Homo sapiens: one gene and its partners. The protein of the gene in region 4 purifies or fractionates together with the protein of the main gene of each other region. This does not show direct contact. Each region holds a gene or a part of one and is shown on either strand. Other genes may lie near its edges.

The links.
Region 1: the proteins of TMPRSS5 (region 4) and YBEY purify together in Homo sapiens (affinity purification with mass spectrometry, with the first as the bait; one large-scale study listed by BioGRID). This does not show direct contact.
Region 2: the proteins of TMPRSS5 (region 4) and LMAN2L purify together in Homo sapiens (affinity purification with mass spectrometry; one large-scale study listed by BioGRID and IntAct). This does not show direct contact.
Region 3: the proteins of TMPRSS5 (region 4) and SLC25A40 purify together in Homo sapiens (affinity purification with mass spectrometry; one large-scale study listed by BioGRID and IntAct). This does not show direct contact.
Region 5: the proteins of TMPRSS5 (region 4) and TM9SF4 purify together in Homo sapiens (affinity purification with mass spectrometry; one large-scale study listed by BioGRID and IntAct). This does not show direct contact.
Region 6: the proteins of TMPRSS5 (region 4) and ADGRG6 purify together in Homo sapiens (affinity purification with mass spectrometry; one large-scale study listed by BioGRID and IntAct). This does not show direct contact.
Region 7: the proteins of TMPRSS5 (region 4) and DDX19B purify together in Homo sapiens (affinity purification with mass spectrometry; one large-scale study listed by BioGRID and IntAct). This does not show direct contact.

What each region holds. Positions count from the first base shown.
Region 1 is NC_000021.9:46,292,646-46,296,668, reverse strand, and holds part of YBEY (endoribonuclease YbeY), read right to left. Parts: intron 508-4,023; coding exon 439-507; intron 1-438. UniProt on the Homo sapiens protein: Single strand-specific metallo-endoribonuclease involved in rRNA maturation.
Region 2 is NC_000002.12:96,729,696-96,733,718, forward strand, and holds part of LMAN2L (VIP36-like protein isoform 2 precursor), read right to left. Parts: intron 3,907-4,023; coding exon 3,824-3,906; intron 1-3,823. UniProt on the Homo sapiens protein: May be involved in the regulation of export from the endoplasmic reticulum of a subset of glycoproteins. May function as a regulator of ERGIC-53.
Region 3 is NC_000007.14:87,848,530-87,852,552, reverse strand, and holds part of SLC25A40 (mitochondrial glutathione transporter SLC25A40), read left to right. Parts: intron 1-2,604; coding exon 2,605-2,672; intron 2,673-4,023. UniProt on the Homo sapiens protein: Probable mitochondrial transporter required for glutathione import into mitochondria. Glutathione, which plays key roles in oxidative metabolism, is produced exclusively in the cytosol and is imported in many organelles.
Region 4 is NC_000011.10:113,703,428-113,708,137, forward strand, and holds the start of TMPRSS5 (transmembrane protease serine 5), read right to left. Parts: upstream 2,882-4,710; 5' UTR 2,798-2,881; coding exon 2,795-2,797; intron 1-2,794. UniProt on the Homo sapiens protein: May play a role in hearing.
Region 5 is NC_000020.11:32,157,823-32,161,845, reverse strand, and holds part of TM9SF4 (transmembrane 9 superfamily member 4 isoform 1 precursor), read right to left. Parts: coding exon 3,877-4,023; intron 3,396-3,876; coding exon 3,332-3,395; intron 1,855-3,331; coding exon 1,735-1,854; intron 571-1,734; coding exon 481-570; intron 1-480. UniProt on the Homo sapiens protein: Associates with proteins harboring glycine-rich transmembrane domains and ensures their efficient localization to the cell surface.
Region 6 is NC_000006.12:142,304,604-142,308,626, reverse strand, and holds part of ADGRG6 (adhesion G-protein coupled receptor G6 isoform beta 1 precursor), read right to left. Parts: intron 1-4,023. UniProt on the Homo sapiens protein: Adhesion G-protein coupled receptor (aGPCR) for steroid hormones, such as progesterone and 17alpha-hydroxyprogesterone (17OHP). Involved in many biological processes, such as myelination, sprouting angiogenesis, placenta, ear and cartilage development.
Region 7 is NC_000016.10:70,326,533-70,330,430, reverse strand, and holds part of DDX19B (ATP-dependent RNA helicase DDX19B), read right to left. Parts: intron 1,140-3,898; coding exon 962-1,139; intron 601-961; coding exon 363-600; intron 1-362. UniProt on the Homo sapiens protein: ATP-dependent RNA helicase involved in mRNA export from the nucleus.

The DNA of each region.
Region 1 (4,023 bases), on a different chromosome or scaffold from region 4:
GAGAAGCAGTTTGCTCCCAACACGGGCTTGCGTGCGTGTTAACCATGTGGACCGGAGCCCACGTGGGCCTCCGTAGGCGGAGCGCATGGGTCTGGAGGAAACCAACCCGGAACTCACTCCACGCAGAGCTCCCGCCTCCGCCCTGGGTCTGGCCTAGTCTCTAGCTGATTGGACCTTTTTGACCAAGCGCCACGTGCTAGTGTCAGCTGTGGCTCTCGGCCTCTGCACTCAGACCGCTTTCCTTAGTGAACACATTCAGCTGGAAGTATTTGGGGAGCCCGGTGTTGAAAGCAAACATCTGTGTCATTTTTACAAGGGCAGGTCTGAGGTCCAGTTCCTGCGGGGGCGGTCAAGATGGAGGGTGGGGGCTGGCAGGGGCCTGGGGGAGCCTCCTTCCCCCACGCACCCCCTCGGTAGTGGGATGGATGGGCTCCTTACCTGCTGCCACTCTGCCTCCGTGCCGTGTGTGAATCCCAGCAAGTGACAGAGTCCGTGGGTGGCCGTCACCTGTCAGAATAATTTTAAACCGGCTCAGAGGATGACCCCACAGGAACCTGCCCCTTCAGGGCCACCCCAGGGCCACAGGCTGCTCTTGGTATGTGGCTGCAGGACCCCAGGGTTGCTGTGAGACCCCTGGGCAGGAATTACAGGCACTCAGCTTCAGTTCCCTTCCATCTAAAATGGAAAGCAAGCAAGCCCCTTTGAGAGTCTTTAGTCAACGTGGATTGCTGTCTGGGCCAGCACTGTGCTGGGGAGGGGCCCCCAGGATGGAACTGCCCAGCCGCAGGAGCAATGGGCAAGGGGGGATGGAATATGAAGAAGTGGGGAGGGGTGGGTGCCACGGGGTGGTGGGGCAGTGGGGCACCGGCCAGGGGTGGCCTCCCTGCCCTAAGAGGGACGAGGCAAGCGCACAGCCCACACCCCAGGTCCAACCCCCAGTCAGGATGGGGCCTCCGGTGGCCCCTGATTTTACTGAACACTCTGGGTAGAGCTTTGGGGCACAGGCAGCACAGGGAGTGCGGGAGAGGTATGAAGGCGGAGGCGGAGGGAGGTGCAGCTGCTGGTGAGTCAGGAAGACCCACAGTCGCCATGTCCCCCTGGAGAGAGGGCTGGATTAAAGCCCACAGGGGAGGGGCACCCGGATGGAGCCCAGAGCTGGGGGAAGAGGAGGAGGAGGAGGAAGAGGAGGGAGGGCCTGTGGACCCTGAGCAGGCACAGCACCAAGGGGGTTTATGGAGCCACATGGGCCATAGGGGTAGCACTCCCCTGGGGTTTGGGTGGAGGGAAGAGGGAGGTCTGGGAGGTGGGTATCCTTGGGGCTGGCGGGAGGTGCCTGGAGACATGGAGGACAAGGCAGGGTAGATGGAGAGTGCAGCTGAGAGCCAGCCCTGAGCAGAGCTGGCCTGGCCTGTGGCTATGAGGATGGGGTCCTGGGCTGGTGGGCTGGCCCTCCCCTCAGGGTAATAGGGAGCCCCAAGGAGAGGGCTCTGGGCCCGAGGAAGAAATGCCAGGGGAAGACCAGGGAACAGAATCTTAGGTTTGGGGAAAATGGAAGCAGATGTCCACATACCCCCCCGCCCACAGTTGCTGGCCACAGAGATCCCAGGGCTGAATCTCCGGCTGGGCCACTTCCTGTCACTCTCAGAAACTCCCTCTTCCCCAGCAGGGTGTGCATGGCGGGCAAGTCCCACCCAGGTCTGGAGGGAGCAGTTGGGGCCCAGGTTCCTGTGTGGCCGTCCCATCCTTTCACACTGGGTCTGGCTGGGAAGCTCTGCCTCAAGCCACACAGATGCACTTGGATCCACAAGGGCGATTCAGGGCATGGCTGTGCAGCCAAAGGAGGCCAAGTTAAGTATGATTCACTCATACATGGCTTTTCAGAATGCTTTTCCTTTTTTTTTTTTTTTTTTGGCATCAAGCTGCTGAAACCACCTGTGCAAAAATGATAACAGTGAGAGAGGTCTGGGGTGGCTGACTCCACTGAGTCCCGGGCACGGGTCAGGCTAACCGCGGGAGGAATTTAATCTAGAGTCTAACTTGCGTGGCTGTCCCCACTGAGTCCCGGGCACGGGTCAGGCTAACCGCGGGAGGAATTTAATCTAGAGTTTAACTTGTGTGGCTGACTCCACTGAGTCCCGGGCACGGGTCAGGCTAACCGCGGGAGGAATTTAATCTAGAGTCTAACTTGCGTGGCTGTCCCCACTGAGTCCCGGGCACGGGTCAGGCTAACCGCGGGAGGAATTTAATCTAGAGTTTAACTTGTGTGGCTGTCCCCACTGAGTCCCGGGCACGGGTCAGGCTAACCGCGGGAGGAATTTAATCTAGAGTTTAACTTGCGTGGCTGACTCCACTGAGTCCCGGGCACGGGTCAGGCTAACCGCGGGAGGAATTTAATCTAGAGTCTAACTTGCGTGGCTGACTCCACTGAGTCCCGGGCACGGGTCAGGCTAACCGCGGGAGGAATTTAATCTAGAGTTTAACTTGTGTGGCTGACTCCACTGAGTCCCGGGCACAGGTCAGGCTAACCGCGGGAGGAATTTAATCTAGAGTTTAACTTGTGTGGCTGACTCCACTGAGTCCCGGGCACGGGTCAGGCTAACCGCGGGAGGAATTTAATCTAGAGTCTAACTTGTGTGGCTGACTCCACTGAGTCCCGGGCACGGGTCAGGCTAACCGCGGGAGGAATTTAATCTAGAGTCTAACTTGCGTGGCTGACTCCACTGAGTCCCGGGCACGGGTCAGGCTAACCGCGGGAGGAATTTAATCTAGAGTCTAACTTGTGTGGCTGTCCCCACTGAGTCCCGGGCACGGGTCAGGCTAACCGCGGGAGGAATTTAATCTAGAGTCTAACTTGCGTGGCTGTCCCCACTGAGTCCCGGGCATGGGTCAGGCTAACCGCGGGAGGAATTTAATCTAGAGTCTAACTTGCGTGGCTGACTCCACTGAGTCCCGGGCACGGGTCAGGCTAACCGCGGGAGGAATTTAATCTAGAGTCTAACTTGCGTGGCTGTCCCCACTGAGTCCCGGGCACGGGTCAGGCTAACCGCGGGAGGAATTTAATCTAGAGTCTAACTTGCGTGGCTGACTCCACTGAGTCCCGGGCACGGGTCAGGCTAACCGCGGGAGGAATTTAATCTAGAGTCTAACTTGTGTGGCTGTCCCCACTGAGTCCCGGGCACGGGTCAGGCTAACCGCGGGAGGAATTTAATCTAGAGTCTAACTTGTGTGGCTGACTCCACTGAGTCCCGGGCACGGGTCAGGCTAACCGCGGGAGGAATTTAATCTAGAGTCTAACTTGCGTGGCTGACTCCACTGAGTCCCGGGCACGGGTCAGGCTAACCGCGGGAGGAATTTAATCTAGAGTTTAACTTGTGTGGCTGTCCCCACTGAGTCCCGGGCACGGGTCAGGCTAACCGCGGGAGGAATTTAATCTAGAGTTTAACTTGCGTGGCTGTCCCCACTGAGTCCCGGGCACGGGTCAGGCTAACCGCGGGAGGAATTTAATCTAGAGTTTAACTTGTGTGGCTGACTCCACTGAGTCCCGGGCACGGGTCAGGCTAACCGCGGGAGGAATTTAATCTAGAGTTTAACTTGCGTGGCTGTCCCCACTGAGTCCCGGGCACAGGTCAGGCTAACCGCGGGAGGAATTTAATCTAGAGTTTAACTTGTGTGGCTGTCCCCACTGAGTCCCGGGCACGGGTCAGGCTAACCGCGGGAGGAATTTAATCTAGAGTCTAACTTGTGTGGCTGTCCCCACTGAGTCCCGGGCACGGGTCAGGCTAACCGCGGGAGGAATTTAATCTAGAGTTTAACTTGCGTGGCTGACTCCACTGAGTCCCGGGCACGGGTCAGGCTAACCGCGGGAGGAATTTAATCTAGAGTTTAACTTGTGTGGCTGACTCCACTGAGTCCCGGGCACGGGTCAGGCTAACCGCGGGAGGAATTTAATCTAGAGTCTAACTTGCGTGGCTGTCCCCACTGAGTCCCGGGCACGGGTCAGGCTAACCGCGGGAGGAATTTAAT
Region 2 (4,023 bases), on a different chromosome or scaffold from region 4:
CAGGGTTTCACTATGTTGGCCAGGCTGGTCTCGAACTCCTGACCTTGTGATCTGCCCGCCTCAGCCTCCCAAAGTGCTGGGATTACGGGTGTGAGCCACCGCGCCCGGCCTTAAATTTAGTTTTATAAGGATAAAAGGAACCCATGTTAGTCCAAGGGTTCTCAACCTCGGCTATACATGTGAATCTCCTGGAAAGCTTTAAAAGAGGAAGGCTGCCTAGACTGCACTTCAGACGAACTGAATCAGAAGCTCTGGGGTTGGGACTGGATGTCAATATTTTTAAAAGTTCTCCAGGGAATTACAATGTGCACTTGGAAGTAAGAACCACAATAGCTAGCCAGAAAAGATGTCTCAATTTTTACCATCTAAAATAAATTTTTTTTAATTAACATCTACAAAATCCTTACAAAATAAACCCAAGTCAGAATTTCTACTTTCTCAAACCAGAATTACTACTATCTCATGGTGAAATGGAAGCTAACAGAGTTTGAACAATTTGTTTCTGGAAGAAACAGAGAGACAAGTTTAAAACTCTTGTCAGGCCCTAAAGCTGATAACTCTTATTCAGATCCATTTCTAACTACCACTATTTCCTCAGCATGACTACAAATCCAGTCATGATCCTCTCTTCAATAAAATCCTTTAATGTACCTACCCCTTCAGAATCAAGTCCAGACTCCTCAACAGGAACACAATCCTTCAGAACTTGGCCCCAAGTGGTATATGGTGAGCATGAGTCACATACATTCAGTCTGCTCTGGCTCTCATCTAAACAGTTCAGCCACCAACCACCCAAGCAGATGCCAGTCAGTCTCAGCGGCTAGTTAACATGCCGAGGCTACAGTGTTAATATTGTAGAATGCAAGGTGAACAGCAGCCCTAGGAACTGTGCAACATAACAAGACTACTGGCCCTGCTTTTCATTCTAGCCTCATCTGTCTCTGATTCTACTTTATTTCCACACACTCATTATCCCCTCTCTCTCTCTTTTTTTTGAGATGGAGTTTCACTCTGTCGCCCAGGCTGGAGTGCAGTGGCGTGATCTCAGCTCACACTGCAACCTCCACCTTCCAGGTTCAAGCGATTCTCCTGCCTCAGCCTCCTGAGTAGCTGGGACTACAGAAGCATGCCACCACACCTGACTAATTTTTGTATTTTTAGTAGAGACGGGGTTTCGCCATGTTGGCCAGGATAGTCTCGGTCTCCTGACCTCGTGATCCACCCGCCTTGGCCTCCCAAAGTGCTGGGATTACAGGCATGAGCCACTGCACCCAGCCTCATCATCCCCTCTCTTAACCTTAGGACCTCGGCTTTTTTCCCTCTGCATGGGACACGGGTTCCTTACTCTGCAGACCTCAACCTAAAAGGCACTTCCTGGAAGAAGCCTTCCCCACTACCACCAACACTACTGCCCCACTTCAGGTTAGAAGCTCCTGCTGTGTCCTCCCATAGTGCCCCAGAGTTCCCCCATCAGCATTCTCAGTGCTACTGAGTACAAGGACCATGTTATCTTGCTCACTAATTCCCAGGGCCTGGCACCTAGAAAGTGGTTAATGTATGTGGAATGAAGAACAGCCCAGAAGGAACACAGAGAAGCAGCTGTAACTGATCCACAACAAAAGGTTATTCTCCTAACTCAGGTCTCACATTCCACCACCTTTAAAGTGAGCTCGCTGGGCACAGTGGCTCATACCTGTAACCCCACCACTTTGGGAGGCCAGGGTGGAGGAATCACCTGAGGTCAGGAGATGGAGACCATCCTGGCCAACATGGTGAAACCTTGTCTCTAAAAATACAAAAATTAGCTGGGCGTGGTGGCGTGTGCCTATAATCCCAGCTACTCAGGAGGCTGAGGCAGGAGAATGGCTTGAACCCAGGAGGTGTATGTAGGTTGCAGTGAGCCGAGATTGCACCACTGCACTCCAGCCTGGAGACGAGCGAGACTCCATCTCAAAAAATAAAAAAAATAAAAAATAAAAAGTGAGTTCTGTGGGAAATGTTAACAGCTGTTGAATCTAAGCATCACAGATACAATGATCATTCTCTATTCTTCTAATTTTTTTTGTTTATTTTGGTGACAGTCTTGCTCTGTTGCCCAGGCTGGAGTGCAGTGGTGTGATCTCAGCTCACTGCAACCTCCGCCTCCTGGGTTCAAGCCATTCTCCTGACTCAGCAACCTGAGTAGCTGGGATTACAGGCTGCAGTGCAATGGCGTGGTCTCAGCTCACTGCAACCTCCACCTCCCAGGTTCAAGTGACTCTCCCACCTCAGCCTCCCAAGTAGCTGGGACTACAGGTTAACACTAATACTAATAAAAATACTAATTTTTGTATTTTTAGTGGAGACAGGGTTTCATAATGTTGGCCAGGCTGGTCTCAAACTGCTAACCTCAAGTAATCTGCCCACCTCGGCCTCCCAAAGTGCTGGGATTACAGGCGTGAGCCACCATGCCTGGCCTTCTAATGTTTTTTAAGTTTGAAAATTTTCATAATAAACCTTTGAGGAAAAAAATAATGTGACCTTTGCCTCTATTTCTAATCCTGATTTCCTCGCTAGGTACTTAGCTACAGGATACCCAGCAACAACCTGTCATAATTTCCCACCATCTGATGGCAGTGCCGTAGGACATAGAGAGAGTACAAACCCACTGTCAATATAAGAAAGCAATAGCCGGGCATGGTGACTCACGCCTGTAATCCCAGCACTTTGGGAGGCCGAGACAGGCGGATCACGAGGTCAGGGGTTCGAGACCATCCTGACCAACATGGTGAAACCCCGTCTCTACTAAAAATACAAAAGTTAGCTGGGTGTGGTGGCATGCGCCTGTAGTCCCAGCTACGCGGGAGGCTGAGGCAGAAGAATAGCTTGAACCTGGGAGGCAGAGGTTGCAGTGAGCCGAGATCGCGCCACTGCACTCCAGCCTGGGCGACAGAGTGAGACTCTGTCTCAAAAAAAAAAAATTAAAAAAAAAAAAGAAAGCACTAAAAAACTCTTAGGTCAGGTAACAAAAAGGCCTGCCAACAGCCAGATACTAGGTTCCAACAAAATGCTGGGCTTTCATCAGTTTCCTTCTCGTTATAGCCTTTTCTTTCTTTCTTTTTTTTTTTTTTGAGACAAGAGTCTCACTCTGCTGCCCAGGGGGGAGTGCAATGGTGTGATTCTCTTGCCTCAGCCTCCCGAGTAGGTGGGATTACAGGCACCCACCACCACACCCATCTAATTTTTATATATTTAGTAGAGACGGGGTTTCACCATGTTGGCAAAGCTGGTCTCGAACTCCTGACCTCAGGTGATCTGCCCACCTCGGCCTCCCAAAGTGCTGGGCTTACAGGTGTTAGCCACCACACCTGGCCAATTATAGCCTTTTCTATAGGCGAGGAGAACTGTTCTTCAGGTCTGAGAAGAAGAAGAAGAAAAAGAAGCTGAAAAGTGTGTGCAAGTTGCAGAAGAGAGCACAGCACTGATGGATTAAAAGTCAGGGGAGGCTGAGTTACGTAAATTCAGCTTGCTCTGGTGCTGGTCTAGCAGCCAAATCACCAATCAACCAAACATGCTCAATTTTAGTGGCTATCTAATAGGCACAAGAGAGAACATGATTATCACTAAAGAAAAAGCCCCTGTTCAAGACAGCTATTCCCAAAAGACTGTGCACTCCTAAATAGTCCCTTTAGAAAAAAACACTGACAAGGACATTAACTTTCAAAGTTCAACAGATGAAGAACCCCTCACTTTCTATCTCCTTTGTTCCCTCCTGTACAACATTCCTGAGGCAAAGAACTGTGATGTCAGTGTAGCTGACCTAGGCTCTGACACTTGCCATTACCTCTTGCTGCTTCTCCTCATTGGGGTAGGTGTCTACAAATACTCCCAGCCCCACAAATTTGTCCATGTTTCCAAACACAGGCCCTAGAGAGAGAGAACAGATGATGAACAATGAAATAAAGCTAAGAGTTGATAAAGGAATAATATATCACTATGATGGAGGAAAAAGTAAAATTCAAATGACTCCCAAGCCTCTCTCAA
Region 3 (4,023 bases), on a different chromosome or scaffold from region 4:
CTGTCACCTAGGCTGGAGTGCAGTGGAGCAATCATGACTCACTGCTTCCTCAATCTGTACGCCTCAAGAGATTCTCCCACCTCCGTCTCCCAAATAGCTGGGACTATAGGCATGTGCCACTGTGATTTATTTTTTGTAGAGACAGGGTCTCACTATGTTGCCCAGGCTAGTCTCACACTCCTGGGCTCAAGCAGTCCTCCTGCCGTGGCCTCCCAAAGTGCTGAGATACCGGCGTGAGACACAGCATCTGGTCCTTATTTATTTATTTTTTTTTCAAAGTTGTTTTCGCTATTCCCAAAGTTCCTTTGTCTTTCCACATAAATCTTAGCATAATCCTGTTTATATTTACAAAAAAATATTGCCAGGGTATTTATTGGAATGGCATTCAACTTGTATGTTAATTTGGAGGGTAATAACATCTTTAATGTGTTGAGTCTTTCAATCCATTTTCAACCTGCTTATGACATTATAATTGAAGTGAATTTCTTTTAGACAGCATAAAATTGAGTCATGTTTTAATTTCACTCTGTCAGTTTTTACCTTTTAATTAGTATACTTAGTTTAACTATTATAATGCAATTAGAGAGTAGGACTTAAGCCTATCTTTTTAAAAAAATTTTCTCTTTGTTGTGTTTTCTATTTCTGTTTTGCCTTTCCTGCCTTCCTTTGTAAGTTACTGGAACATTTTTTAGCATTCCATTAAACTCTTTAATCTCACTTAAAACATTCTATTTTAGCTGTCTTTTTCTGTCATTGCTTCCATGGGGAAGAAAGGATGTCATCTTGTTACTGCCGGGTAGCGTTAGAAGTCCAGGTTCCCCACCCAGCCTCTATTGACACACAGTGTGAGGGAAGACCTCTTTTGCTCTTGAGCATGTGTGGGAATTCTGGCTTTCTATATGGTTTCCACTGACGGTGTAGTGGGGTAGTCTCATTGCTGGGTGATCGTGAAAGTAGTGACTCTCCACTATTCCTCCTGTGACACCACCCTAGCAGAGGGACAAAGGAGCCTTATTGCTGACCTGGTAGGGGTAAAAATCTTGGTTCCTTATTGACCTTCTGTCAGCCTTACATTGGTGGAAGTCTAGGCTACCTACTTGGCCTTTGCTGATATGGGTCTGGGTGGTGCCACAAGTTTCACTTTGGTGTTTGGCTAGAGCAGAGTGGTTATTGTCTAAAAGTTTTCTGTCTTACTAGGGTTCCCGTAGCTGGGAAAATATGCAGTCCTTTGTGACTAATGTCTTTTACTTAGCATAGTGTTTTAAGAGTCATCCATGTTGTAGTATGTATCAGTATTTTATTTCTTTTATTGCCAAGTAATATTATGTGAATATATTACATTTAATTTATTCATTCATCATTTGATAGACATTTGGGTTGTTTCTACTTTTTGGAATAATTAATTCTATGGACATTCATGTTTCTGTGTGAACATGTGTTTTAATTTCTCTTGGATATAACCTTATGTGAATATGTGTTTTAATTTCCCTCAGAATGTAACTGGAGTTGAAATTACTGAGTCATGTGATAACTATGTTTAACCTTCTGAGAAACTGCTAGGCTATTTTCTAAAGTAGCTACACCATTCTGTATTCTCACCAGTAGTATCTAAGGGTTCCAATTTCTTCACATTTTCACCAGAATTTATTATTGTCTGTCTCTATAATTTTAGCTTATTTAGTAGGTATGAAGTCACATCTCATTTGTAGTTTTGCTTTGCATTTTCATAATAATCAATGATGAACATTTTTCCTTTTTCTATTTTTCTTTTCTTTTTTTTTTTTGAGACAGGGTCTCACTCTGTTGCCCAGGCCTGGAGTGCAGTGGTGTGATCTCAGCTCAGTGCAGCCTCTCCCTGCTGGGCTGAAGCAGTCCTCCCACCTCAGACTCCCAAGTAGCTGGGACCACAGGAGTGCGTCACCATGCCCAGCAAATTTTTTAGCTTTTTGTAGAGATAAGTTCTAACTATATTGCCCAGGCTGATGTCGAACTCCTGGGCTCAAGGGGTCTCCTGCCTTCCAAAGTGCTGGGATTACAGGCCTGAGCCACTGCATGCAGCCAAACAGTTTTTCGTGTGCTTATTGGCCATTTGTATGTATTCTTTGGAGAAATATATATTCAAATCCTTAGCCAATTTTTAATTACTTTATCTTTTTGTTATCAAATTGTAAGAGTCTGTCTGTTAATAGAAGACTTCTCTTCAGCTCTGCCTACTTTTGGTTCCTCTCCAAAGATTTCACATAGCACATTTTAATATTTTCTCTAATTTCATACTTAAGCAAGTTTAACCAGTTCTCTGCTTTTGCTCTACTTCCTTTCTTATAATAATCTTTTCTAAAGCTTTTTTTCTAAGCTCTTAGTAGAACAATCTAGAGCTGAGTAATATAGACTTCATTCTGTAAGAAGTTAGTATCATCCAGAAATGCTTCATTTTAATTGTGTTAAAATTCCCTTTTTAAAAAGAATGGACATACATAAATCCAAAAAGCTTATTTTTTTAGATATAAATACCTGAAAGAATGAAATTACCAATCATCAGTATAAATTTTTGTATAAAAGGTTTAAAGATATATTTTGATTACTTTTTTTCTATTATAACTTTAGGATGCATTTTTTAAAATCATTCGAAATGAGGGCATTAAATCTCTATGGAGTGGCCTTCCTCCTACCCTGTAAGTTGAAATTTAATGTTTTTTCTACTAAATAATGATTGTTATTTTATCCTATAATCAGCATGGTTGGACAAAGTCTTGCATTTTTAATATTAGAATGCTTTCATTTTCTGAGGTATTGTTTTTTAAGCCTCACAGCCACCCACATGTTTGATGATGTACTAGAAGGACTTGCAGGACCTGAAGAGGTTACATTCACAGATACGGTTTATTACAGCAAAAGGATAGAAAACAGAATCGGTAAGGGAAAAAGGCACATCAGGAGTTGTCCAGAAATAGGCTTCCAAAGTCCTCCCTTATGGCATTGCACAGGATGTGCTTATCCTTCTATCAGTGAGCTGTGAAGTATACAAAGTGCTTCTGCCTTGGGAAACCCATTTGAGTTTTGAGTGTAGGGCTTTTATTGAGCATGGGTTATATGGATACATTCTGTCTTTTAGGCCAGTTGTGATGAGCAAAACTTCAAACCCACAGAAGGAAAGAAGTGTACTATAAATCGCAGTGTACAGATCAACCTGGACAAGTTGGTTTAGTGCTTCAGACATACAAAAAACCTTCTAATGGGGAATACTCCTGGGGATATATTCTCACGAGTTGTCCAGAGGTCAGGCATGCACATAGGCCCTCCTGAAGTTATATAAGGTTTGAGCAACCAAGCCTGCTGTGTTGTCTTTGCTACACAAGCATATGGTAATTTTTTTCATGTTCAGAAATAAAGACTTTGGTGTTTATTTGTTCATTTTACTAAAGCTGTATGATATATTGCAAAATGTATACTTTCCTTTCTCCAGGTAATTCTAATTGTCTACTGCCTGGCGATTACATGAATTAATATGATAAACTGTTAATATTGAATGTAAAAATGTAAAATAATAACTTGGCTTTTGCTGTCTCATTTATTCCCAAGAACTTTATACTTTTAATGGAGGAAATTAGTCAATTTGAGGCATTTATTTTAAACAATGTTTAAGGTTTAAAGTTAGTGGCAGATCCGATACCCCACCAGTCAGTCCTGCTCCTAAATTCTCAGCAGCAAAGTCCACCATATAACATTAGGCATTCCAATTTATAGTCTGTGAATGTCCTTTAGTTACATCATAAACATGGACTAGTTTCTTGTTGCACTAATATTTATTGACATGGCAGTACCTGCAACTTTGTGTTTGAATTTAATAATTCCCTTTTAATAATTTCTTTTAAAATAGTATGTCATTAGAATTCCCTTAAAATTAGTGTATGTAATTCTGATGATGTTAATTATAATTTATGTCTAGTTATAAGCAGGAGTGATATATGGTCCACAGTACAAAAATGTTTTACAATTTCTCACGTACTTTTTATTTCGCTGATT
Region 4 (4,710 bases):
AAGAGACTTGCCTTGTCTCAAATGAGACTTTGGACTTGGACTTTTGGGTTAATGCTGGAACGAGTTAAGACTTTGGGGGACTGTTGGAAAGGCATGATTGTGTTTTGAAATGAGGACATGAGATTTGGAAGGGACCAGGATAGAATGATATGATTTGGCTCTCCCCTCACCCACAATCTCATTTTGAATTGTAATTTTGAATTGTAATTACCACGCACTGGGGGAGGGACCTCATAGTAGGTGATTGGATCATGGGGGCAGTTCCCCTATGCTATTCTCATGATAGTGAGTGAGTTCTCACAAGATCTGATGGTTTTATAAGGGGATTTCCCCCTTTACTCTGCACTTCTTTCTCCTGCCAGCATGTGAAGAAGAGTGTGTTTGCTTCCCCTTCCACCATGATCATAAGTTTCCTGAGGCTTCCCCAGCCATGCAGAACTATGAGTCAATTAAATCTCTTTCCTTTATAAATTACCCAGTCTCAGGCAGTTCTTCATAGCAGTGTGAGAACAGACTAATACACTACCATCATCATTCAAAAGAATAAGGGCTTACTTCTCATTGAGGTGATCACAGAAGGCTTCCTAGAAAAAGCAGCCTCTGAGACAGGCCCACAGGGATGAAGAGGGTTTGAGCTGATATAATGGGCATTGGGCAGTCCAGACAAAGAGGATTGAATCAGCAAAGGCAAAGGGATAAGAAAGCATAGAGCAGAGTATGTCATATGTGTGTCTGCAGCTCATGAGCCATGAAGAGGAGTAATGAAAATAAGATCTTAAAAAAAACACCAGACAGTTCAAAGCTAAGTCTGCAACCTACTATGTGAACTTGGACAACTCAGGCCATCTCTTCAAATTTCAATTTTCTCATTTGTAAAATAAGAGTAATAACTCCTGCTTTCCAAGGAATAATCTCCCTCCTCGAGTATCTTGTCTCTCTCTGTTATTCTCCATGCCATAAAGTCAGAGTAATCTTTCTAAAATGCAAATATGAGCATGTGAGCCCCATCTCTACCCCATGAGTCTTTGTGGCCTTCAGGATCAAACAGGAGCTCCATGGCATCGCTCACAAAGTCCTCCATGATCTCGCCTGGCCTCACCTCTCCATCCTCACTGCCAGCACTTGCTCCCTCCACAGCAAAATTTGGGATCACACTGACATACGTGCCATACTTCAGTGCCTTCAGGCACTCTCACAACAGAGAGACTTTGCATCTGCTCTCCCCTTTCCCATGTAACTGACTCCAACTGACCCTTCGAGACTCAGCACAGACATCACTTCTCCAGGAAGCTTCCTTCTATGCATACAGCACCTGTTGGGCCCTATATTGTGCTCATTTACTTCCTTCTCTCTCCTTTCTCACTGGTTTTTGCATCCCAGGGCTAAGCACAGAGCCTGGCACAAAGTGGGAATTCAGTTAAAGTACATTAAAGGAGGGAAGGAAAGAAGGGAGGGGGGAGGGAGAGACAGAGGGGGAGGTACAAATAAGATAATGTGAATTAAAATGACTTTAAAAATTGTAAAGCCCAATACAAATGTTAAGTATAATAATATTAATAAGAACTACACCTAAGCTGTGGATCCTTCCCCCCAAAATTTATAATCCAGTAGGGTAGATAAGATCTCTCAAAACTGAAGCAACTCCCGTTTCCCCTGCAGACTACTGTCTCCCCTGCATCTTTCCCTGTCAACACATAGGGTTGTACCCAATGAGGATAAAAGCCTGAAATGCTGACTCCAGGACAGTATTGGCTTAAATGTGATTTTCATGTGTCACATGAAATGTTCTTTTCACGCCAAAACCTCCCCAGTCATGCCTTCGTACTCCACTGAACTGTCTTCCTAACCCTCCAGCAGGAGGAAGGAAAGACTTTGTCAGACTCACCTAGGTCAGTCACCTCCAAATTGCCCCGAAAATCATTCCACTGGACCCAGAGCACCCATGCCAGTTCAGCTCACAGACAGCGCAGCAGCCCCAACATCTTGCCTATAGAAAGAGGTACCAGCCCCACCTCCCTATTCCCTACACCAGCCACAGCCCAGGACCTATAGGACTGGACCTCCCAAGAGCTGCAGGCCTTGCTTTTCCAGGAGAAACAGAGGTCATGGTTTGTATCAAACCACACACATTCTTTCTTGTGCCTACAGATGAGACTCACAGGACACAGGCAGTGAGGCTGCAGGACAGCAGGCTTGGGAGAGCCAGTCAAGCACCCATAAGATAGTAGAGAAGCAGCAACAGAAGGTGAGGTTTGGATTTCTTCTCTGGGGTTGTGTGATTGCTCTTGAGCTGATGTCCCTCTGAGTGGAGAGGCAGGCCTGATCTAGAGAGAATTCCAGGGCATGGCCAGTCTTTTCTTCTGCCTCAGTACCAAGGAAGCTTGGCTTTAAACCCAGCCTCTGAATAAACTGGCCTCACCTCATGTACTGCTCCACCTCAAAATTCAACTGCCCAAGCTCATGTGCTAGCCTAGAAAAAAAAATGGCCTTTAAAATTACAGGACTCCTTGCTCCTCTTTTTGAGTGGAAGTTCAACGTAATAACGATTTGTTGAGCACCACATATGTGCAAAGCACTTGATAGATCTAAGAGGGATGAAAGAGGATAATAAAGGGCAGTCCCTGGGGAGGAAACAGGAAATTGGCCACACAGGGCCCCTGCTAGGATCCAGCCCCTGTACCAGAGCTGCCTCAGGAGGCTCTTTCCACCAGCCTAGAATCCCAAGGGCAGAGGAGGGAGAGAGAAAGAAAGAGAGAGAGGCCACAGCAGGGATGGCACAGAGACGTAACCTTACCATAGGGGTCAGTGGCACTGTTGTAAAGCCTCAGGGTCTACTAGGCAATGTTCCGCTCCTGTTCTCAGGCCAGCATTGATTAAAGCTAGCCCAGCAAGCTTGGTTGGAAGATGAGGTCTCCCTGGTTCGCACATGGCCCCTCCCTGTATCCCTACTCCAACACTCACACAGACACGCGCCACAGAGACAATGAACTCTGCTGAGGACCCATGAATAGGCCCCTTGTTGCAGGAAAGGGGGACAAGGGCTGGGCTGGGCTAGGCAACCCCAGCCCCTCCCATCTGCTAACTGGAAACTCAGAAACAGAGGAAAAGGTTATGGGGAGGAGGGGAGGCCAACTACTGTTGCTTAGCAACAAGGTCCCTTGTGCCAAAAAGTGTGCCCCATGCATGCATGCTGGCAGAATTCTCCCTTCCTGCTGACAGAGCTGTATTGGAGAGACCGATATTAGCATTTGTTGAAATGTTTCTGAGCCCTCTGGATTTTATCTCGCCTCCATGTGGGTTGGCTTTTCTAGCAGTCTGGGGCTGTCACCATGTTGGAATTGTTGGGGTGATGATGGAAGATCTTTGTCACCTCTTGCCCGAGGGCCACATCTGTCTCCCCAATGCCAGGGAAGTGGGGCCTCTACCCCTGTCTGCCCTGGGAGCCAGTTGCAGCAGGAGCCCTCAGTGCTATCTTGTTTCAAAGCACAAGGTGACCCAAGTGAGCCCACACGGGGCTAAACACACCTGGGAGCAGGCACATCTCTTTAGACAAGGAGGCAGAATAGGTCCTGGGGAAGGCAAACACAGGTGGGGCTTCCTTTCCTCCAACTGGCTGCTCAAAAACCCCTCAGAAGGGACAGTTAAGAATATAGGCTTTAGAGTCAGGCCTTCATCCAACCTCAGTTCTCCCACTTCCCTTACTCAGCCTCACCTGTAAAATGAGGATAATAGTACATGCCTCATAGGGTTGATGTCAGAATTCATTGAGATATTGCCTATAAAGCCCATAGCCTGGTGTCTAGCACAGACTGTATTCAGCAAACAGTAGCTGCTATTATTATTGTTGTTGTTGTTGTTGTTGTTGTTGCTGAATGTCACCCACACAGGATTTAACTTTTTGCTCCCTATTTTCCTCATACACTGTATTAGTCAATTCTTGCACTGCTATAAATAAATACCTAAGACTGGACAATTTCAAGAGAAAAGAAGTTCTCACTGTTCCACAGGCTGTACAGGAAGCACAGTGACTTCTGCTTCTGGGGAGGCCTCAGGAAGCTTCCAATCATGGTGAAAGAAAAAGGGGGAGCAAGGCCTCTAACATGGCAGGAGCAAGAGCAAGAGAGAGAAGGGGGAGGTGCCACACACTTTTAAACAACCAGATCTCATGAGAACTCTATCACGAGAATAGCACCAAGTGGATGATGAATCATGAAGGTTTCTTGATCATGAAGGATCCACTCCCATGATCAAATCACCTCCCATCAGAGTCCACTTTTAACATTGAGGATTATAATTTGACATGAGATTTGGGTTGGGACACAGATCCAAACCATATCATACACTCAGTGTGTCAATTCTGAACTTACTCTCATCACACCAGAGCACACATAAGACAATGAAGAGATAGAGGTCAGCTGTGAATTATAGAAGAAGGAGAGAAATGGTGGCTGGAACTCAGAAGCCCTTGGCTAGGCTCTGAGGTCTCCTAGGACAATACTCTTCAGACTACAAACCTGAATATCTACCGTGTGTCAGAAACTAGCCTGGGCATGGAGGATGAACAAGTCACAGACTGGGTGCTTACAGACTGGAAAAAGGGATAGAAACAGATGTAAGTAACTGTTATTATGAAAAGTGAAATAACAAAGACATAAACCCAGAGGTATAGGAGAATAGAGGAATAGCTGCCCTGAGGATACAAAGAAGAGG
Region 5 (4,023 bases), on a different chromosome or scaffold from region 4:
AACACCTGCAGAGACAGGATACCTGCAGCCCTAAATTTGGGTTCTACTATTTAGACTATTTCAGCATTTTGTGCTTTTATCTTTATTAACTCCTTTCTACTTTTCTTCTTTCATGTTACTCTTATCTTTTCCTTTTTCTCAAGGTGTTATTAGTCCCTCTTATTTCCTGTGAAGAGCACTGCAGGTGACATATTGCTTTCAAGTCCTGCTTTGGCTATGGCTATACCTCGTAAGTTTTACAAGCATTATTCACATTGTCACGTATCCTGATGGCCTTTGTCTCCCAAACATACAGAATACAGATTCTTTCTTTCCTAAAAAGATCCATCTTCTAGAGCAGGAACAGTTCTAGGTGGCTTTGGTCCTCCCCATTCTGGGTGGAAAAGGAAGATTCAGGCACTTGGGTTTTTCTCCCAGCATCCTCCTCCTGACCTTCCTACCCTATGAGGACTAAGAGGACCTCCTCAAGGAGGGCAGTACCTTGTTAACGAAATAAAAGATGGCATAAACCAGGACGTAGAATGCAGAGCCCCCGGAGACTAGGAAATTTCTCCACCACCAGCGGTAATCCTGAGGAGGAAACAGAGGAAGGTCAGTGTTGTCCTGGGGCAGAACCCCTTCCTACCAATTTCACAGTTGCTTGAGGGGCTGAAGACTCTGGTAAGAGCAGTAACATATGGGGTGATGGAAATGTTTCACAGCTTGACTGTGATGGTGGTTCCAGAACTGTATGCATTTCTAAAAACCACAGAACTGTGGACAAAGAAGGGTGAACTTTACAGTTTATACCTCATTAAAAAAAAAATCAACAACAAAAAAATAATTAACATTTCTCGAGCAAATGCTTAGCATGTGGCAGGCACTATTCTTTTTTTTTTTTTTTTTTTTTTTTTTTTGAGATGGAGTCTCACTCTGTCGCCCAGGATGGAGTGCAGTGGTGCGATCTCGGCTCACTGCAACCTCCGCCTCCTGGGTTCAAGTGATTCTCCTGCCTCGGCCTCCCAAGTAGCTGGGACTACAGGCACGTGCCACCACACCCGGCTAACTTTTTGTATTTTTAGTAGCGATGGGGTTTCACCATGTTAGCCAGGATGGTCTCGATCTTCTGACCTTGTGATCTGCCCGCCTCAGCCTCTCAAAATGCTGGGATTACAGGCGTGAGCTACCGTGCCTGGCTGGCAAACACCACTCTAAGTGCTATAGATGAATCCACTCATTTAATCCTGAGAGCAGCCCTCCAAGTTAGGTCCTCTCACTCACCCCATCATGTGGAGGAGGAACGGATGGCATGAAGTTAAGCAACCCGCCCAAGACCCAGAGCTACTCATGGAGGAGCCAGGGTCCCAGCCCAGAGGGACTGTTCATCCCAAACCCTGGCTTCACCCACTCTGCCAATGGCCAGTTCCCAGAGGGAGGGCAGGCCACCCAGTGTGCATCAGCCTGTTGAAGAAACTACTACTGGAGTGGACTTGGCACTGGCAAATCTACTGTCCTTTCATCTAGCTGTGGTGAGTACCCCACACAACTAAGCTGGAAGGTATCTCATTAGGCCCAGGGTACAGCTGAATACATGGAGGCTGGGAGAGGCACAGCAACGTACTGGCCCAAGAGCTCAGAGCCAGAAGCAGGGGCCACATGAAGAGCCCAGACCCAGCCTCTCCGCAGAGCCTCATCAACCCGTTCAATGCTGGATCCAGTTCTCCCTCCCCCGCCTCCTGGCCCTGCTCTCCTCACCTCTGCACACAGCTGGAAGTACACCATGACGATGCTGATTTGTGAACAGGATACCACCAGGATGATGAAAACAAGGAACAGGAAGCCAAAGAGGTAATAGAACTGATTCTCCCAGATAGCCTGTGGACACACAGTGGGGCTTCAGCTGGCTTGACCACCCTGCTCCCCTTCCCCTGGCACACCAACCTGTCACAAGGGCAGGAGTGGACACATCATCATGACACCATCAGGGCCCGTGGGCCTGGCATGTGGCTCTGGCCCCTCTTCCCCAGAGCAGGGGGTGAGCCACACTGTCCTTAGGGAGGGGCCAGGGGTTGACTGACCTGCTCTGGGTAGACCCCAGCCTGAACTCAGCAGCTTGTAGAAAATAATGATTCTTATCCAAATCAAAATTATAGAGCAGCCACCACCACTTGAGCAGCTTACCAAGCGCTAGGCCTTATGCCACATGCCTCATATACAATTGCTACATGTGTGTGTCTATGAAAGCTTGGCCTGGTAGAGCTAAGAAAGTCAAGGATCAGAGACGCTGGTGACTGGCCCAGAGTCACACAGATGAAACAGAGGGGGCTTCCCTGGGAAGTGCACATGGGCTTTGGTACCATGGGCAGCCAACACCTCCTCTGACCCTTCTCCCAGGCAAACCTGTGTGGGTGAGGTGGTCTCAGCAGGGAGGGGCTGGGCCACTACTCTGGAATAGCAGATACATGTCCGGTACTGACTTGGTACAAGGTACCATCTGTGCTGGGCCCCGAGCTGGGTCAGCCACACTTACATGCCTCTGAAGGGCCTTCCTACCAACTTTCATCTTGGCACTCTTTGGGAGGAGTCATCATCACCATTACAACAGCATTTCCTGAAGTCAAGCATTTTTACAATGACTTATTCCAACTTCACAATGACCCTGACAAGCAGGAATCATTCTGTCCACCCTCCCAGGAGCTGTGAGTAACACAGAGAGGTAAAGATGTGCAAGGACCCAGAAATGAAACCAGGTGCAACGATGCTATTAGTCATGGTGGGGAATGACTGAAGTATCACTGAGGCAGCTTCTATTTACCAAGTCCCCCTTTCCACACACCAGGCTCCCCACACACCACATATCTCATTTAAATTTTTTTTTTTTTTTTTAGATGGAGTCTCTCTCTGTCACCCAGGCTGGAGTGCAGTGGCGCGATCTTGGCTCACTGCAACCTCCACCTCCCAGGTTCAAGTGATTCTCCTGCCTCAGCCTCCCATGTAGCTGGGACTACAGGCGTGTGCCACCATGCCCGGCTAATTTTTGTATTTTCTAGTAGAGACAGGGTTTCACCATATTGGACAGGCTGGTCTCGAACTCCTGACCTTGTGATCCACCCACCTCGGCCTCCCAAAGTGCTGAAATTACAGGTGTGAGCCACCGCGCCCAGCCTCATTTCACTTTCAATGCTGCCCTGAGAGGGAAGGCTGTTGTCCAATTTCAGGGTGAAGAATGGGGCTCCGAGAGGTGAAGTGGCCCATCTGAACTTTCTCAGGCAGTAGGCAGCAGAGCACCCGAGTGGAGTGGGAGTGACCCGGCTAGCATGGGTGGAGGGGTGGGGGAGGCACCAGTACTCACACTGAAGATGAAGAAGAGCTCGATGAACATGGCGCCGAAGGGCAAGATCCCAGCCATGAGGATGCTGCCACAGAACGAGAGGTTGACATTGTTAGAGACCAGGCCACCAGGAAGCCCCAAGCTCCTTCCCAAGCTGGCATGAAGAGAGAGCACCTACACGAGTGTGGTGGTGCTAATTCTTCTGGCATATTTCTGTACTATTATAATCTCTTGAGAGGTAGGCAGGGTGGGCATTATTCTCCTCATTTTATAGATGGGCAACTGGGGTGCAGAGAGGTGGGGTGACTTGCCCAAGGTCCAAGTGATGGTCTTAACCTGTCTCACTATACCCTTCCATCCTTCCCCTTCCTTGTCCTGGTTCCTAGGATGACACCAAGTCTGCCTACAACCTGGTCACCTTGATCTTGGAGTGAAGTTAAGCTTTCATAAACTCTATTAGAGCCGGCTGAAGCGGCAGGAACTCTGGTTGCCGCACCCTTCTGGTGGCGGAGGGGGGCGTACCCTCTTCCACGTTCCCCTGCTCTTGCCTCTGCTGGAGGACTCACCCCACAAATCGGTTCATGTACCACCGCTGCTCGGGGATCTGCCGGGGAATCTGGTTGGTGCGCACAGGGTTGTCATATGGCTGCTTTCGGAAGCCGAAGTAGTAGCCCAAGTAGACGAGGGGCAGGGAGATCCCGAACCACATGCAC
Region 6 (4,023 bases), on a different chromosome or scaffold from region 4:
AATCCCCTGAGAGAGAGTTACTTTGCCTATAAGTAGTAACTGAGACTCATTTTAGCAAGGAGTAACTAATAAGATAGTTTAGGGTTACAGTAATATCTACCCTAAAGCCTGCAGTTTGCTTACCTGAGTAAAATGTGTAATACTAAACAGAAAAGCAGAAAGAGAAATACTCAAATGAGCAAAATTAGACATCAAAGGACTCCTGCACTTGCCTCAAGACTGCATTTTTAAACTTTAAGAGACCATCTCCATCTCATAGCCAAGAGAATAAGCTTAGAGTGAGACAGATCTGGTTTGCTACTTATGAACTATGCTGCAAACCTTGGGAAATTGCTTGATCGCCTTGTGCCTCCTATTTCTTACCTGTAAAATAAGGAACAGCAATGAACCTAGTCCACAGTGTTGCTGAGATGATTACATAAGACGATGCCTTTCAAGAACAGTTCCTGACACTCAGCAAGTACTCAATAAATATTAGCTATTATTATGATTACTATCATTCCAGGCATTCTCATTTAAGTGGTGTTATTCTGTCCACAGTGAAATCAAAGGAAAAGACTCAAGCAAGAGTAAACAAGATTAATCTCATATGCCAACACCAATCAATTGACTTTGTGGTCACTTCTGGGATCACCTGGGCCAGAAATGAAATTGGTTATTCATGTTTGCTATGAATAAAGAAATGTTAAGTAGTATCTGAAACTCAAGCCATGTTTTAGTATTCACCAAACTAGAAGTTCTAAAATCATGCAGCTCTCCTGATGGAAATTCTAAACTAGGAAAATTCGAAACCAGGAAAAGGTTAAGATTTGAAGAGTATCTCTTGTTTGCAAGTTGTTTTCAAATCCATCCATCCAAAATATTTGAGATTAAAAGAAGTACTGCTAATGAGAAGTATGTTTTAGTAAGTAAGAAATTAGTAATTATAATAATGGATGTGGACTCTCAAACAGCAACAACTTACCTCCTGGTGCCTCTATAAACTGTGTGGTTTGTAGGGCAAGTACTTAAACCCTTAGTCTTTTCTTCTGTAAATAGGATATTACCCACCAAAAAGAACTGGAAATAACAGTACAGGTTAATCTGTAGGGGCTTTTAAAACGGTAGGTGACAAACTTCCGTCCCATAGAAAGTTCACTTATTTGGAAGAATAGGCCTGTTTCCTACTGATGCTGGATGAATGAGTATGCTTTTAAAACAAAAGCACAATTACATATTCAAAGAAATTTAGAGCTAGGAGGACCAATGCTGAAGTCTAATCTAACCTCATTTCACAAAAAAAGGAAACTTAGGTCCAGAAAAATAAAGAGACAGACCAATCAAACCTGGCTGTCACCCTTACAGATATTAACAGAAGGATGTATCAGCTCAAGAGAATTCCCAGCTTCTTACACTCTTTGACATACGACAATTATCTTTCATCAATGTGTGAATAATAGCTTTCTCTCAGATTCATTTAATCTCTAAATAATACTCATAGATTCCTGCTCATTAGTTTGGCCACAAAACACTGTTTATGCGCTCAGGCAACTTCTTTGCTATAAAAGGTTTCAGCATTTAGGGATTCCATATTCAATTCTGAAGCTGTCTTATCAAAGCTGCCTGCAATCCTATCAGTTGCAAATGATGACCATGGCTTAAGGCATTCCATGTCTCCAGACTCTATCACTTCAGACAGAAAAGAAACCCAACAAGGCAAGCACTTGTAACTAAACAAACCATAGGACAGGCCAACTTTCATCCACTTTACTGTTTACTGAAGAAGATAAACAAATAAATTAAGAATAGAACAGAGGAAGGAAAGTACTATGTGTTTTCTCAGGGGATCACTTAGCAAAGATATATCCCTGAGATTTAAATAACTATCTCCCAAGAATGGAAAATCCTGAACAGGGTTACTAAGGTTCTAAATAGGAACTACAAGGAAAAAAAACACACACACACAAAAGTACACTCTTACACCATTTTGATTGTGGCCTTAAAGTTCTACTGAAGACAGCAGGAACATTTTTTAAGTAAAAGACAGTCATAGACTCCTATATCTGGAAGAAACCTAAAGATTATGCAAAAAAAACCTATCATCTTACAGGTGAAAAACTGAGATACTAAACTACTTGCCCAAGATCATAAGATCAGTGGTGTCAGAGCCAAAAGATCCTTTTTGTCACTTGGCTTCCAACCTAGCGTCCTTTTTGAGACCCACACTACCTCTGTTGCAAACTTGTTCTCTTTTTCAATCTACATAGGCTACAAAATACAATTTGCTTTAGTCCTGTTTCCGGAAGCTTTAGAATGTAACCCTTCTACAGAATTGCTTTAAATGTCGATATGATTCCTTGTAGGCATTATTTTATCCAAATGGATCACCGAAATAATCTTAAAAACCTACCACTTTCCATCTCTCTACTCCTACTGGTTTCCCCAAAAGTCACAATTTAAAGAGAAATTAGTGAAGAAATTTTGATATTAGTGGAGAAATTGATACGATACTAATGCAATCAATACCAGCAACTGTCAGAAATAACTGCTTTCGCCATATCCCAACTCTGTTTCTATGGCAAATCTTTTCATAAAAGGGACTGGGGAATGGCAGAGAAAATACCTTAATTCTTCCAGAGTGAAAAGAACAGTAATTTGGTTTATTCAAGTCTGCTCATAATCGTTTTTCTTTTTTTTGGTTAAAGATCATGTTCCTGAGCCAAAGCAATGTATTTAAAAAAAAGTGCTATTCTATTAACTCGATTTGAGTACCTTTATTAAGCTGGGTGTACCTCCACTTCAAAAAGGCTGATTTATTCTTCAACCCTGCACAAATCTTAAACTTTATTTGAACAGTAACATGCATAACTGGCTTATACTAGAGGTGAGAGTAAAACTCAGCCTTAAGAATTACATACATAGGTACACAAGAATGACTACACATAAAGCTTGGGAAATCTGAAAAAGAGAAGTAAATTGTGTCAATATACTTGTTTTAATATTGTACTACAGGTTTTCCAAATGCTACCATTGGGGGAACTGGGTCAAAGGTATACAGGATCTCTATTTTTTGGCAACTATATTTAAAGTTAGAAATATCTTTAAAATTTCAATTGAAAAATTAAACTCTTAAGCCCTTATGCATACAACTTGTTCTCAGATGGTTCAGAAAAAAATTGTGTGTGTGTGTGTGTGTGTGTGTGTGTGTGTGTGTGTGTACAGGAGGGGCTCGTGGGGGGGGGCAGGAAAGGAGGAACGGGAATGATTAAACAAATGGGGCCAATAATTAGAATAGGTGATTCTGGGTAAAAGGTATAGAGGTGTGTTCTTTGCATAACTTTTATTTTTGAAAACGTCCTGTAGATTTAAAATGATTTCTAAAAGAGTTAAAAAATTCACATTTACATTGAAACATATCACTGTTTTCATGTCACGGCCCTCTCCTCACTATTGAGTATTATTGCTTTAATCCCTGTCACTTTGATAAAAGAAGTTGCATCTCATTTGAATTTCCTTTATTTGGATTGTCATGTTCAAGTCATTTGTATGGTTTTCTATTACAAATATACATATTTTCTTCATTGATTTGTGATTTCTTAACGACTTATTTTAAATATGTTAAACTTTTGTCATATTTGCTCTGTTTTAAATAAATGGATCTTGAAGCTTTTTTTTAAGGCATTCCAGATAATTCCATTTCAAGTAATGCTTATAATGGAAAGTAACATGACACTCAGGTAGCCACATTTTTTGATCAATATATCCTTTATATGGCACCACCCCTGTCAATTAGTATGCATCTTAACATCATCCAATGTAGATAATAATCTCATCCAATTAGAAATGAAAATGGAAAGATACAGTTTTTGCCCATGCATACCACAAACATTGAACAAAGTCTTTTCCATTTAGTCTAAATTCTAAATAGACTGTAGAAACTTTTGATTAAAAATCATCCCATCAGAAACGTAAACTCTGTAAGATATATAGGCCATTAGAAAAATAGTCAGGTTTTAAAAAGCAGTTATTAGTTTATTTTTAATA
Region 7 (3,898 bases), on a different chromosome or scaffold from region 4:
ATTTTTAGTAGAGATGGGGTTTCACCATGTTGGCCAGGCTGGTCTTGGTCTCCTGACCTCAGGTGATCCACCCGCCTTGGCCTCCCAAAGTGCAGGGATTACAGGCATGAGCCACCGTGCCAGCCGCCCAGCTTATATTCTTAAAAATCTAAAAATTATTTCATTGGCTGTTACTTGGGGTTTTCTCCAAGTAATCACTAAGAAGTGGAATCAAAGTCTCCCTCTTACGACTCACTAAAACCTTAGGAGAACAAACCACTTCGTTTCTTCCCATGGCACCCAGGGGCATCCAGTCCTCCTGAGCCCTGTGGGGAGCTGGCTGAGAGGGAAGGGCCAGGCCTGCCACTGCCACTGCTACTCACATGGCAGAAGATCATGGCTTGAGCAATGGTGATGGCCCCGTAGAGGTTACACAAGGCCTGGAACTTCTCGTCTCTGCTGCTGCACAGGACATAGTACTGCTTGATGGTGTCCAGGGTCTCTTCCTCACGCTTCAGTTTGATAACGTTTGGGTCTGGGACCACTTTCTGGGCAAACTTCCACACAGAGTCTTCAAAGGTGGCGGAGAAAAGCAGCATCTGGCAGTTCCTGGGCAGCATCCTGCAAGGGAAGGCCCTGGTAGGTGGCCCCAGGTGGCCCCGGGAAGCGACAGAAGCACAGCCTTCCCAGCTGGGAGGGTCTAGATGCCCAGGAAGGCTGATGGGAGAGGAGCGTCTTGGGGAGGAGGAGCAGCAGGCCTGGGATGGGGACAGGGGTTGGGGGAGAGTCCCTAGGTCTCCTTTCTCAACCCAGGCTGGGAGGGACTGTGGCCAGCGCTGACACGGAAGTGGCCCGTCAAACAAATGCTGCTGAGAGTACGAGAGCCAAGACCCAGGCAGAAGCCAGAGGAGGCATCTGAAGTGAAGGGAGAAGACACTGCAGATGGGGAATCTGAGGAGTCCCCCACCCTCGAGATCCCTACCTCTGGATGCGGATGCTCTGATCTTGGTGGCCCTGAGTGGCTATCATGACATCAGCCTCATCCAGAACAAACACCTTGATTTTCTTGGGATCAATGAACTTGAGCTTGGAGCACCAGTCCAGCACAGTCCCAGGGGTGCCAATGACAATCTGCTCACTGATCTTCTGGCCTCTTTCCACTGTGGAGACCCCAAGATGTTTTCCATGTGTGGGTATTTCTTTCTTTCTTTTTTTTTTTTTTTTTTTTTGAGACAGAGTCTCACTCTGTTGCCCAGGCTGGAGTGCAATGGCATGATCTCGACTCACTGCAACCTCTGCCGCCCAGGTTCAAGCGATTCTCCTGCCTCAGCCTCCCAAGTATCTAGGATTACAGGCACCTGCCACTGCACCTGGCTAATTTTTTTTTTTTTTGTATTTTTAGTAGAGGTGGGTTTCACTCTCTTGGCCAGGCTGGTCTTGAACTCCTGACCTGGTGATCCACCTGCCTCGGCCTCCCAAAGTGCTGGGATTACAGGCATGAGCCACCGTGCCCGGCCTCCATGGGTATTTCAAAGGCAAAGCCAGCTCTTCTCTCTGAGAAATTCTAAACCTATTATATATTTTAATGCAAATGTTTTGCTGTTTGCATTAATATATTAAGGAAAGGTTAGGATATCACTATAGCATTTAATGGACATAAAAACAGACAAAAATGCTGAAAAGGTAATGGGTACAAAAATACAATTAAAATAAGTAAGATCTAGCATTTGATAGCACAATGTGGTGACTACAGTCAACAATATATTGTACATTTAAAAATAACTAAAAGGGCCGGGCACGGTGGCTCATGCCTGTAATCCCAGCATTTTGGAAGGCTGAGGCAGGCGGATCACCTGAGGTCAGGAGTTCGAGACCAGCCTGGCCAACATGGCGAAACCCCATCTCTACTAAAAATACAAAAATTAGCTGGGTGTGGTGGTGGGCTCATGTAATCTCAGCTATTTGGGAGGCTGGGGCAGGAGAATCGCTTGAACCCAGGAGGCGGAGGTTGCAGTGAGCCGAGATCGCGCCACTGCACTCCAGCCCGGAGACAGACTGAGACTCTGTCTCAAAAAAAAAAAAAAAAAAAAAATTCAGAATTCTCTACCCTTCTAATTCGAATACAAATTGCAAAATTTTAAATGATTATCTCCCAATAAGTTTCACTGTATTATTTACTTTTCAGAACTGGCCTCAAGTTGGCATTAGGACACTGTATGCAGACTTGATTTTCATAAGGTCACATTTGTTTCAGAGATCCATAAAACTCAACCAAACCTCTAACACTTTTTTTTTTTTGAGACAGAATCTCATTCTGTCGCCCAGGCTGGAGTACAGTGGTGCAATCTCGGCTCACTGCAACCTCCCCCTCCCGGGTTCAAGCAATTCTCCTGCCTCAGCCTCCTGAGTAGCTGGGATTACAGGTGTGCACCACCATGCCCAGCTAATATTTTTGTATTTTTAGTAGAGACTGGGTTTCATCATGTTGGTCAGGCTGGTCTCGAACTCCTAACCTTACAATGATCCACCCACCTTAGGCTCCCAAAGTGCTGAGATTACAGGTATGAGCCATCATGTCCGGCCAACAACACTTTTAAAATTACTTAAATAATATTAACTGTAAAACAAACTAGTGTAGAAAAAATTAGTAACAAAAAATAATTAACAGAATAAGCCCCAGAGTCAATAGCCATAAACATTCTGGGTTTTTATTCTGCTAATGAAGATAAATAAATTAGGCAATTAAACAAATTCAGTCCTGGCCTAGTGGCTCACACCTGTAATCCCATCACTTTGAGGGGACGAGGCAGGAGGATTGCTTGAGACTTGGAGTTCTAGACCAGCTTGGGCAACATAGCAAGACACTGTCTTTACAAAAAAAAAAAAAATTTGTTTGTTTTTTTTTGTTTGTTTTGTTTTGAGACAGAGTCTTGCTCTATCGCCCAGGCTGGAGTGCAGTGGCACGATCTTGGCTCACTGCAACCTCCACCTCCCGGGTTCAAGTGATTCTCCTGCCTCAGCCTCCTGAGTAGCTGGGACGACAGGCACATGCCACCACACCTGGCTAATTTTTCTATGTTTAGTAGAGATGGGGTTTCACCATGTTGGCCAGGATGGTCTCTATCTCCTGACCTCGTGATCCACCCACCTCGGCCTGCTAAAGTGCTGGGATTACAGGCATGAGCCACCATGTTTGGCCTACAAAAAAAATTTTTAGAAAATTAGCTGGGTGTGGCCAGGCACGGTGGCTCGTGCCTGGAGTCAGAACTCCAGCCTAGGTGACCTAGCGAAACTGTCTCAAAATAAAAAAAAGAAGGCGGCCAGGCGCAGTGGCTCACGCCTGTAATCCCAGCACTTTGGGAGGCCAAGGCGGGAGGATCACGAGGTCAGCAGATAGAGACCATCCTGGCTAACACAGTGAAACCCCGTCTCTACTAAAAATACAAAAAATTAGCTGGGCGTAGTGGTGGGCGCCTGTAGTCCCAGCTACTCAGGAGGCTGAGGCAGGAGAATGGTGTGAACCCCAGAGGCAGAGCTTGCAGTGAGCCAAGACTGTGCCACTGCTCTCCAGCCTGGGCGACAGGGCGAGACTCTCTCTCAAAAAAAAAAGAAAGAAGTCTGGGCACAGTGGCTCACACCTATAATCTCAGCACTTTGGGAGGCCGAGGCAGATGGATAACCTGAGGTCAAGAGTTTGAGACCAGCCTGGCCAACGTGGTGAAACCCCATCTGTACTAAAAATACAAAATTAGCCAGCCATGGTGGCAGGCACCTGTAATCCCAGCTACTTGGGAGTCTGAGGCAGGAGAATCACTTGAACCCGGAGGGCAGAGGTTGCAGTGAGCCAAGATCATGCCACTGTACTCCAGCCTGAGTGACAGAGCAAGACTCTGTTTCTAAAATAAATAAATAAAAATAA